2 linked regions of the Homo sapiens genome follow. The protein of the gene in region 2 purifies or fractionates together with the protein of the main gene of each other region. This does not show direct contact. Each region holds a gene or a part of one and is shown on either strand. Other genes may lie near its edges.

Region 1 (2,813 bases), on a different chromosome or scaffold from region 2:
TTCCATCCCCAGCCTGCCCTAACCCCTGCCCCACCCACACATGAATTCAATGAACTAATACCTTTAAGCCCTTAAACAGAGTTACATATTCGCTTGCTAAATAATACAGAAATCAGTTACAGCCCCTTCTAGAACCTGTAGTCCCCCGCCTCCTGCCTGAGCAGTCACACCACATTATTCTGTCTCCTGTACTTCCTGGGCATTTCCAGGGTCATCAAAAAGCCCAGTGTATTGCCGAAGGGACTAAGGTTAGATCTCAGGAAGGACTTCCTAGAGAATAGCCAAGGGGAGTCTGGTCATCCTGGGAGAGCTGGCCAGTGGAGCAGGCGCTGGGGTCAGTGGGGTAGGGTCTGAGATTTTGGGGACAGTGAGTAGTGGGAGAGGCGAGGTCTGGAGCAAAATGGAGCCAGGGTGCCACCTAGTGGTTCCCTCACCTCCCCAGCCCCAGAAGCTCTTCCTTCTGGGCCTGGGTTCTTTTCCCTCCTCCACACCCTTCCCTAAAGAAGGCAATAACTTTTGAGTGCCCAAAACAGGAGAGGCATTTTTCTTGCGTTGCTTTTATTTAATCACTTCCCCAGCCCTTCCATCGCCTTTTTTGAGGATAAGAAACCCAAAGTTCCCAGAGATTAACTTGCCCAAGATCACTTGGCCTGGATTTGAGCCTGAGGCTCAGACTCCAAAACCCACACTCAATTTGCTACATCTCCCAGGGGTGGGGCCAAGGCAGCTGTGAGCAAAAGGAGAAGTATCAGCTTCTCAAGGGCCTAGGGTTTGTTGGAAGGGCAAGGCAAGGGCAAAGGGGGATACAGAACAAGGGGGCAAGTACCAGTGCCTGGGATGGACCCATCCATTCAGGCAGGGGGTGTGGGGTGTCCCCTGTGCTTAGAAACCACCTAGCATCATAGCTGCAACAGCACTTTATTGGGATCTGAGTCTACAGTTCACATAGGGAGGTGAAGCCGTGGGAGAAGCAGGGGTAAAAAAAAAAAGGGGGGGGACTTCACCCCCTAGGGACAGCTGCTTCCAAACCTAACAAAACCCCAGGGTAAGTCCTCGTGCTGGGCCTCGAGCCAGCAACTCTAGTCAAATCCCAAGGCACCGGTCAGCATGTGGGTCAAGGGGCCCACTATGGGGACATACACTCAAGAGGATGAAAGCTCTTTAGCTTCAGAATCAGATTGCCTTCCCCAGACCCCACCCCAAAACAGGCTCCTCTCCCATCTCCCCCTTCACAGTGACAAAACACAAGCCCACATCCCAGGGCCTGGAGTATTTGCATGCATTTGCATAGACGGCAACGCAGGTCCAGCTAAGGCCTTTTTCTACATAAAGTGACATCAGTGCAGGGCTGGTGATTTTGCTCTACTGTGTGAAAGATATCTGAGGACACCAAACAAGCCAGGACAGAGTCCACCCTCCAGGAGTTAGATAACGCTGGGATCTTGGGCTGGGCCAGGCCAAGGCCATTCCCTGTGGGGCAGGGTGTCAGCCCCGGTGGTGGTGGTGGTGGCTATGGCTGTGCCCCTCCCTGGGCCCCGCAGCTCTTGGGCTCTGTGAGTGCTTGTCCTTCTTCCCTGACCTGTGGGGAGGAAGAGGCCTTTAGGGGACAATACCATGCAATGAAAACGGGTTCCCCAAGGAGAGAGGACCCTGCTCCTCCCAATGAAGCTGACTTGAGCAGGCACCACCAAGCATATGTGGGAAAAACCTGGTCTCCCAGGATAAAGGCTCCAGTCGGGGAGACAGGAAGATGGGGATCTCCCTCGTCCCCTGGGCCATGCAGGTAGAGGTAGGGCAGGGCAACTCAGGAGAAAGAATCCCCCTGCCCAAAAGGGGACTGCTCAGGACCACTCTGGGGTGGGCACAGGCAGCTTCCTACCCTCAAGGGAAGAAAGGAAGCGGACCTGAATGCCTTCTCTAAGGGAAGCCAGCTGGGGACCAAAAGTAAGGATACTCAAACTAATGATCCTTGCTCTTCACATCCTCCCGACTGCCTCTGTCCCACCCGACCCAACTCCCCCACAGCTGCCCACCTCTTCTTCAGTGCTTTGTCTCCAAAGAAGTGGCTGAAGATGAAGTCCTCAAAGTCATCTACTTCATCATCATCACCTGTCTGTTGCACAGCCACCTCCTCCAAGCTGTCCTCCAGGGCATCCACAAAATCCCGGAAGCGGAGGCGGTCATGACGGAAGATGCCATCCTCACCAAAGAAAGCAGGTGAGAGGGGTAGCTCCTTGGTCAGCTGCCCAGCCCAGGGCAGCCGTGCCAAGTATGTTCTTAGCAGAGAGGCCAGCTCCTGTTGCCGCACTGGGGCTAGCTCTGTGCCAAAGAAAGTCAGGCCCTCCTGCCGGGCACACTCGTCCACACCTGAGCAGCCCTGGGGTGCCCGGTACTTGGGCCTCAACAGCTCTGCCCAGGATGGCAGGGGGTCATGGCTGTCCTTAGTCCCTTCCCTCCACCGAGGTTGCTTCTGCTTTTCTCCAGAGGAGTGGAAGCTACCACTTTTCCTTGGGGGTTCCTTCGGGCCCTGTCGCTTGCCCTCCTTCTTGCTCCCCGACTCCTCCACCCTTGGCCTGCCCTCCTTCCACCTTCCTGCTGGCTCCCTGTCCTCCTGACCTCCCCAGTTCTTCTTCCTTTCCCGGCCAGATTCTTCCTTCTTATGTTTCCAGTGCTCAGCCTTCCGGTCTCTCTGCCCATCCCACCACTTTTCCTTTCCACTCCACTCCCTAGAATTCTGGAAGTGGGACTTCTGGTGCCAGGCCTTTGAGGCATTGGCAGAGACCCCAGGGTCCTGGCCCCAGTTCTCCAGGCCC
Region 2 (7,293 bases):
TTTTTTTGAGACAGAGTATCACTCTATCGCCCAGGCTGGAGTGCAGTGGCGTGATCTGGGCTCACTGCAAACTCCGCCTCCCAGGTTCATGCCATTCTCCTGCCTCAGCCTCCCAAGTAGCTGGGACTACAGGCACCCGCAACCGTGCCCGGCTAATTTTTTGTATTTTTAGTAGAGACAGGGTTTCACTGTGTTAGCCGGGATGCTCTCGATCTCCTCACCTCGTGATCCGCCCGCCTCGGCCTCCCAAAGTGCTGGGATTACAGGCGTGAGCCACCGTGCCTGGCCCCGGCCAGGTATTCTTTTAGAGCAACACAAAATGGACCAAGACATGAATCAACAGACACACTGATGGATGAAGAGAGAGATTGGAGTGGGGGAGACTCGCACCTGTGGTGTCCACCTGGGGCAGGAGGCGCAGGAAGATGGGCCGGGCATAGGGTGCCAGCACCTTCTGCAGCTCCTGGTATATCGCGTTGGGGTCCAGCAGGCTGTGGGGGTCTGCGACGGCCGCCATCCCTGCCTTACCCTCCACTCCTGGAGGCAGAGGCTCAGCTGAGGACACCCCGCCTCTCATCCTCCCCACCAGCAGGACCAGATACACTGTCAAGCAGTAGCCCCTGGTCTGTAATCTCCAGTCTCTCCCAACCTGGGATGACATTTATGGAAGCAGCCACACATTTTGTGGAGCTCCTGCTTGGCTCATTGAAGCCCTAAGACAGGTGGGCTTTCATGATCCCATTTTCTGGATGACAAAACTGAGGCTCAACATCACCCAGGTGAACTGGCTCCAGATCCAGTGCTTCCTCCTGGGCTGCCATGAGCAGTTGTCCAGGTTGTGCACTGCCCAAAGGCATGTGTACTTCTAAGCCCCTTTTGGCTGAGCTCCCTCAGGACCATGCCTCAGGACCACCCCCTGCAACCCCAGCTTGCCTGGAACAGCCACCCCATAGACGGCCACGTCTGTCTGGCCCAGCAGGCGGCTCAGCACGCCCTCCACCTCGGTGGTGGAGACGTTCTCCCCTCGCCAGCGGAAGGTGTCCCCGCTACGGTCCCGGAAGTACATGTAGCCCAGCTCATCCATCACTAGCACGTCACCTGGCAGAGGGGAGAGGGGCAGATGGGTGGAGGATCCCCATCCGCACAGCCAGTCACCGGGGCCTAGCAGGCTGCGCACCTGAGAGGTAGGCGCTGTCGCCCTTGCTGAAGACGCTGTGGGCGATCTTCTTGCTGGTGGCGCTCTCGCTGACATAGCCATCGAAGCGGCGCAGCGGGTCCTGTTGGTTGATCTGACCCACAAGGAGGCCAGGCTCCCCTAGGGAGAAGGCCATGTTCAGGCTGCGCTAGGCAGGCAGGGCGTGGGGACCCCTGCTCCGGGTGGGGACCATGCGGGGGCCCTGCTCACCGGCCTGGCAGGGGATGCAGAGGCCCTGGGCATCCCGCAGCAGCTCCATTGTGTCCTCATTGACCTTCACCAGCCGGATGGGGTACACGTGGGGCAGGATGCGGCTGTTGAAACCACAGGAGCCGACCTGGAATGGGGTGAACTGAGTTGGAAGGAGCCGGGGATATGCGGGGTCCTTCTCAGTAACACTTTGCCTGCCTTGCCCTGGGGCTTGGACCTAGCACCTCCAGTGTCATTCTAAGCTCTGTGACCTTGGCTGATCTGCAAAAGCAGGGTAGTAAGCGTCGCCTCCAACTCAGGGCCCCTCCTCCCACCTTCCCAGCCTGCATTCAGTCAAGAGAAGACCTCTGGCTGGCACCCACTTCCTGATCCACAAAACCCTCCATGCTGGCAGGAAGTAGATGCCTCTGTGTGGACACTACAGCTACGTCAGACACTGCAGAGCTTCACCTGCTGCCCGCCGCCCTGCTTGGCATGGTTCTATGAACAGAAATGCTTCTCCAACATGTTTGAGCCACTACACCCTGTCTGGTGTGTTTCTTTCTGCTTTTCCCCCTTCCTCCGTTCCTCCCTTCCTTCCTTCCTTCCTTTTTTTATAGAGTCTTACTCTGTCGCCTAGGCTGGAATGCAGTGGCGCAATCTTCGCTCACTGTAACCTCTGCCTCCCACGTTCAAGTGGTTCTTATGCCTCAGCCTCCTGAGTCTGGGATTACAGGCGCATGCCACTGAGCCCAAACAATTTTTTTTTTTTTTGTATTTTTAGTAGAGATGGGGTTTTGCCATGTTGGCCAGACTGGTCTCGAACTCGTGACCTCAAGTGATCCACCCACCTCAGCCTCCCAAAGTGCTGGGATTACAGGCGTGTGTGGGTGGCAAGCTACCCAGGTGCCGAGGCAAGAGACCGAGGGCACGAGCCATTCCAGTATAATAAAATATATAAAACAACAAGAGTTATACTAGATCTAGATCATAGACATGATTATATATGAATATCATTAGTCATCAGTTTGTAGCAATTACTCTTTATTCCAGTATTATAATAATCCTCGCTCTGTAATCATAACCTAGAAAAAACCGGGCCATAGAGAGATAGGAGCTGAGGGGACACAGTGAGTAGTGACCAGAAGACAAGAGTGCGAGCCTTCTGTTATGCCCGGACAGGGCCACCAGAGGGTTCCTTGGTCTAGCGGTGACGCCAGCGTCTGGGAAGTCTAGTCTAGCGGTAGCCTTAGTGTCAAGGAAAAACACCTGCTACTTAGTGGACCGGGAAAGGGAGTCTCCCTTTCCCCCGGGGAGTTTAGAGAAGACTCTACTCCTCCACCTCTTGTGGAGGGCCTGACATCAGTCAGGCTTGCCCACAGTTATCCGGAGGCCTAACCGTCTCCCTGTGATGCTGTGCTTCAGTGGTCATGCTCCTAGTCCGCCTTCATGTTCCATCCTGTACACCTGGCTCTGCCTTCTAGATAACAGTAGCAAAATTAGTGAAAGTACTAAAAGTCTCTGATATGCAGAAATAATGGCATAAGCTGTCTTTCTCTCTCTCTCCCTCTCTCTGCCTCTGCCTCGGCTGCCAGGCAGGGAAGGGCCCCCTGTCCAGTGGACGCATGACCCACGTGACCTTACCTATCATTGGAGATGACTCACACTCTTTACCCTGCCCCTTTTGCTTTGTATCCAGTAAATAACAGTGCAGCCAGACATTCGGGGCCTCTACCGGTCTCCGCCTCTTGGTGGTAGTGGTCCCCCGGGCCCAGCTGTCTTTTCTTTCATCTCTTTGTCTTGTGTCTTTATTTCTACAATCTCTCGTCTCCGCACACAGGGAGAAAAACCCACCGACCCTGTGGGGCTGGACCCTACAGGCGTGAGCCACCGTGCCTGGCCTGGTGTGTTTCCTATGCAAGAATCTGAGCTACAGTGAGCAAAAGTGCCCTGGGGGCTGGCCATCCAACACCAAGCACACTGAGGAAGGAGCATTGTTCTTGGCATTAAGGACCCAGCCCCCATGGCACTTGCTGTTTTTTTTTTTCCTTTTTAGAGACACAGAGTCTCACTCTGTTGCCCAGGCTGGAGTCCAGTGGTGTAATCATAGCTCACTGCAGCCTCGATCTCGTGAGCTCACGTGATCCTCCCGCCTCAGCCTCCTTAGTAGCATTGACTACAGGCACCTGCCACCATGCCTGGCTAATTTTTTATTTTCTGTAGAAAAGGGGGTCTCACTACATTGGCTATGCTGGTCTCAAACTCCTGGGCTCAAGTGATCCTCCTGCCTCAGCCTCCCAAAGTGTTAGGATTACAGGTGTGAGCCACTGTGCCCAGCCGACATTTGCTTTATGATCATTATTACGGTCTGTTCTTGGCCTTGGATGGGAGGGGCTTGGGAAAGGAGAGGGAGATTCATGCAAGCGGAGAATGGAGATGATTAAGAGAGTAAGTAGTTGCTAATTATGAAGGTATCTGTTTGCTGCTACTTGGGAGGCTGAGGCAGGAGGATTGCTTGAGCTCAGGAACTGAAAGCTACAGTGAGCTATGATCACGTGGCTGCACTCCAGCCTGGGCGACAGAGCGAGACTCTGTCTCAAACAACAACAACAAAATAACAGCACGGTACACAGAGCCCTATTCTCCTTGCTAATCTCCACACGCAGAAACTGAGGCTCAGAAAGGCTGAGGCACTTGCCAGGGCGCACAGCCATACCTATCCTCCAACTCTCCTGACCCAAGGACCACAGTCACATGACTATCTGTGCAGGCTGCAGGATTGTCCCTCTGGTGGTGCACCGGGAGTCCCAGGAACTCCCCTTACACCCCGCCCTGCGTGCGCCTTGGCGGAGCCTTCCGCGCCAGTCCAGGCTGTTTTATGTATCCCAGGGGCCCCAGGAAGAGGAGACAGTGGTCTTCCCTGAACTCCGAGACCTGCCCCGGGGCCCTGCCGGTGTGCACCTTGCCGTCCATGTTGGCAATGCTGCAGTTGCACTCGGTGGCGCCGTAGAACTCCCCGATTTGGCGTACGCCGAAGCGCTCCGTGAACTCCTCCCAGATGGCAGGACGCAGCCCGTTCCCCACCGCCAGGCGCACGCGGTGTCGCCTCTCCGCCTCGCGCACCGGCTGCTTCAGCAGGTAGCGGCAGATCTCCCCGATGTACTGAACCACCTGGGGGACGGGGTGAGGAAGTGGGTGATGGGACCGGCAGGCGGTGGGGAGCCCGGATCAGAGGAGAGACCCCGAGACCGCCCCACCCAGGGAGCTAATCCTATGAGCGGAACAGCCTAAGGATGATGATGGCTGCAGAATCGTCCACACTCCATTAGGGACCACATTGACTCCTAGGACTCGTTCAGTCTCTTGCAAAGGGTCTAGGATGCAGCTTTTTTTGTTGTTTTTTGGTTGGGGGTCTCCCTGTGCCGCCCAGGCTGGAGTGCAGTGGCATGATCACAGCTCACTGCAGCCTCTAACTCCTGGGTTCAAGTGATCTTCCAGCCTTAGCCTCCCGAGTAGCTGGGACTACAGATTTTTTTGTAGAGATGGGGGATCTCGCTCTGTTGCCCAGGCTGGTCTTGAACTCCTGGCCTCAAGCAATCCTCCTGCCTCAGCCTCCCAAAGTGTGAGATTCCAGGTGTGAGCCACTTGTGCCTGGCCGGATGCAACTTCTATCCAAGCAGATGCAGTGTCTTTCCTCCTCCCCCTACCCGCACCCCTTCGTGGTCCCTCGATTCTGCCAAGCAGCTTCCTGGAGATACCACATCCCTGTCTGAGCCTCAGCAGGCACACAGGGCAGGACTAGCAGGAGAGCTGGCACCCCGCAGGGCAACCCTCAGCCTGGAGCCTACACTGTCACCCAGAGCCCCCTGGCTGAGCCTGGGCTGGCCGGAGCGTCACCCCTGGGCAGACCACTCCCAGGTGCACCCACTAGGCTGCGCTGCGTCTGGACTGAGCCCCAGGTGCCCACGGAGCCACCTGCTCATGGGCTCCCCCTGCAGGACATCTTCCCTCCCTGCCACACATTCTCAAGCCCCGCAAGAGCTTCCTGGGGTCATCCACCAGGTGCCCCACGGTGCCTTTAAGAGTTCTCATCTCCAGTTGGGCTTCGGAATGACTCCCCCCCCGCCACTTTACAGATGGAGAAACCGAGGCTCACAGATGGTAAGGAACTGGAACGAGATCACAGAGCTGGGAAGTGGCAGAATTTGATTTGAACCCAGGCATCCCGGCCCCAGAGTGGGAATAAAACAGTTGCATGCCAGGGATTACCCACCAGATGGATCATAACAGCTGCAAATGTGCTCGGGGCTTCCCGCTCACACACAGGATGAAACCCACATTTCTTCCTGTGGCCAACTGGATCTGGCCCTGCCGCCCCTGCTGCCTCCTCTCCCTCCATCTCCGCTGAACACTCTGCCTCCTCAGGGACTTTGCACATGCTAGCCTTTTGCCTGAAGCAGTCTTCCCCCAGATGCATTTGCCTGAACTCTTCAGTCTCAGCTCAAACGTCACTGAGAGGCATCCCCTGTGCCCCCAGCTGTGCCCCTGAGAAGGTACTGACTAAATAGCTGATGACTAAACCAATATGATCAGCAGACACCACCGCCATGCTCTGAGCTGAGCTTGGAGATGAAGGCACTGAGGCCCAGAGAGGAAATGCAGTGCACCCAAGATCACTGGCTGCTGACCAACAGCAGGTCCCTAAGGGGGAGGGTCCTCTCCCTCCATTCTCAGACTTGGGCCACTGCCTTAGGTGTGGTACAGCCCACACCATCTCTAGGAGAGAACCTGGCCAATCAGCCCAGCCCCTCCTCAGCCAATATGACTGGCTTAAGAATGGGCACGGCCAGGCGGGGTGGCTCAAGCCTGTAATCCCAGCACTTTGGGAGGCCAAAGCAGGTGGATCACGAGGTCAGGAGATCGAGACCATCCTGGCTAACATGGTGAAACCCCGTCTCTACTAAAAAATACAAAAAATTAGCCGGGCGTGGTGGCACACTCCTGTAATCCCAGCTACTCGGGAGGCTGAGGCAGGAGAATGGCGTAAACCCGGGAGGCGGAGCTTGCAGTGGGCCGAGATCGCGCCACTGCACTCCAGCCTGGGCGACAGAGCGAGACTCCATCTCAAAAAAAAAAAAAAAATGGGCACATGGCTGGGCGCGGTGGCTCATGCCTGTAATCCCAGCACTTTGGGGGGCCGAGGTGGGCAGATCACTTCAGGTCAGAAGTTCGAGACCAGCCTAGCCAATGTAGTAATACCTCATCTCTACAAAAATACAAGAAAATTTTGCCAGACCTGGTGGCATGTGCCTGTAATCCCAGCTACTTGGGAGGCTGAGGCAGGAGAATCTCTTGAACCCGAGAGGCAGAGGTTGCAGTAAGCCAAGATCGCTCTATTGTACTCCAGCCTGGGGACAAGAGTGAGACTCCGCCTCAGAAAAAAAAAAAAGGCAAGGATTTTTACAGACAAGCTAGCAGGGAGGCTGTATCTGATCTAAATAGACCGTGAAAAACCGGTGAGGACCAGATGTGCCATCCGCATAGGGCGCAAATCTCTGGCAGCCCCCAACCCAATCTCTTATTATGCAGGTGAGTAGCTACTCTACGTTGCCTATTTTTTTTTTTTTTGGAAACAAAAAATCCTCGGTAGAACTTCCCTTCTAACAAAAAGCAGCCCAAGAAATCACTTATTTTCTAACAAAGAACAGCCTGGAAGATTGGGCTGCAAACACAAATAAGGAAGCTGGAAGCTTGCAGCAGGGGATGCCAGCAGCTGCACCGATAAAAAGGGCTACCTGTGGCCGGGCACGGTAGCTCACGCCTGTAATCTCAGCACTTTCGGAGGCCAAGGTGGGTGGATCACCTGAGGTCAGGAGTTCGAGACCAGCCTGGCCAACATGGTGAAACCC

The links.
Region 1: the proteins of SLC27A1 (region 2) and PBXIP1 purify together in Homo sapiens (co-immunoprecipitation; 3 studies listed by BioGRID and IntAct, with this or other methods). This does not show direct contact.

What each region holds. Positions count from the first base shown.
Region 1 is NC_000001.11:154,943,539-154,946,351, forward strand, and holds the end of PBXIP1 (pre-B-cell leukemia transcription factor-interacting protein 1), read right to left. Parts: coding exon 2,034-2,813; intron 1,580-2,033; coding exon 1,486-1,579; 3' UTR 542-1,485; downstream 1-541. UniProt on the Homo sapiens protein: Regulator of pre-B-cell leukemia transcription factors (BPXs) function. Inhibits the binding of PBX1-HOX complex to DNA and blocks the transcriptional activity of E2A-PBX1.
Region 2 is NC_000019.10:17,494,517-17,501,809, reverse strand, and holds part of SLC27A1 (long-chain fatty acid transport protein 1), read right to left. Parts: intron 4,556-7,293; coding exon 4,346-4,555; intron 1,533-4,345; coding exon 1,406-1,532; intron 1,316-1,405; coding exon 1,178-1,315; intron 1,099-1,177; coding exon 934-1,098; intron 538-933; coding exon 391-537; intron 1-390. UniProt on the Homo sapiens protein: Mediates the import of long-chain fatty acids (LCFA) into the cell by facilitating their transport at the plasma membrane.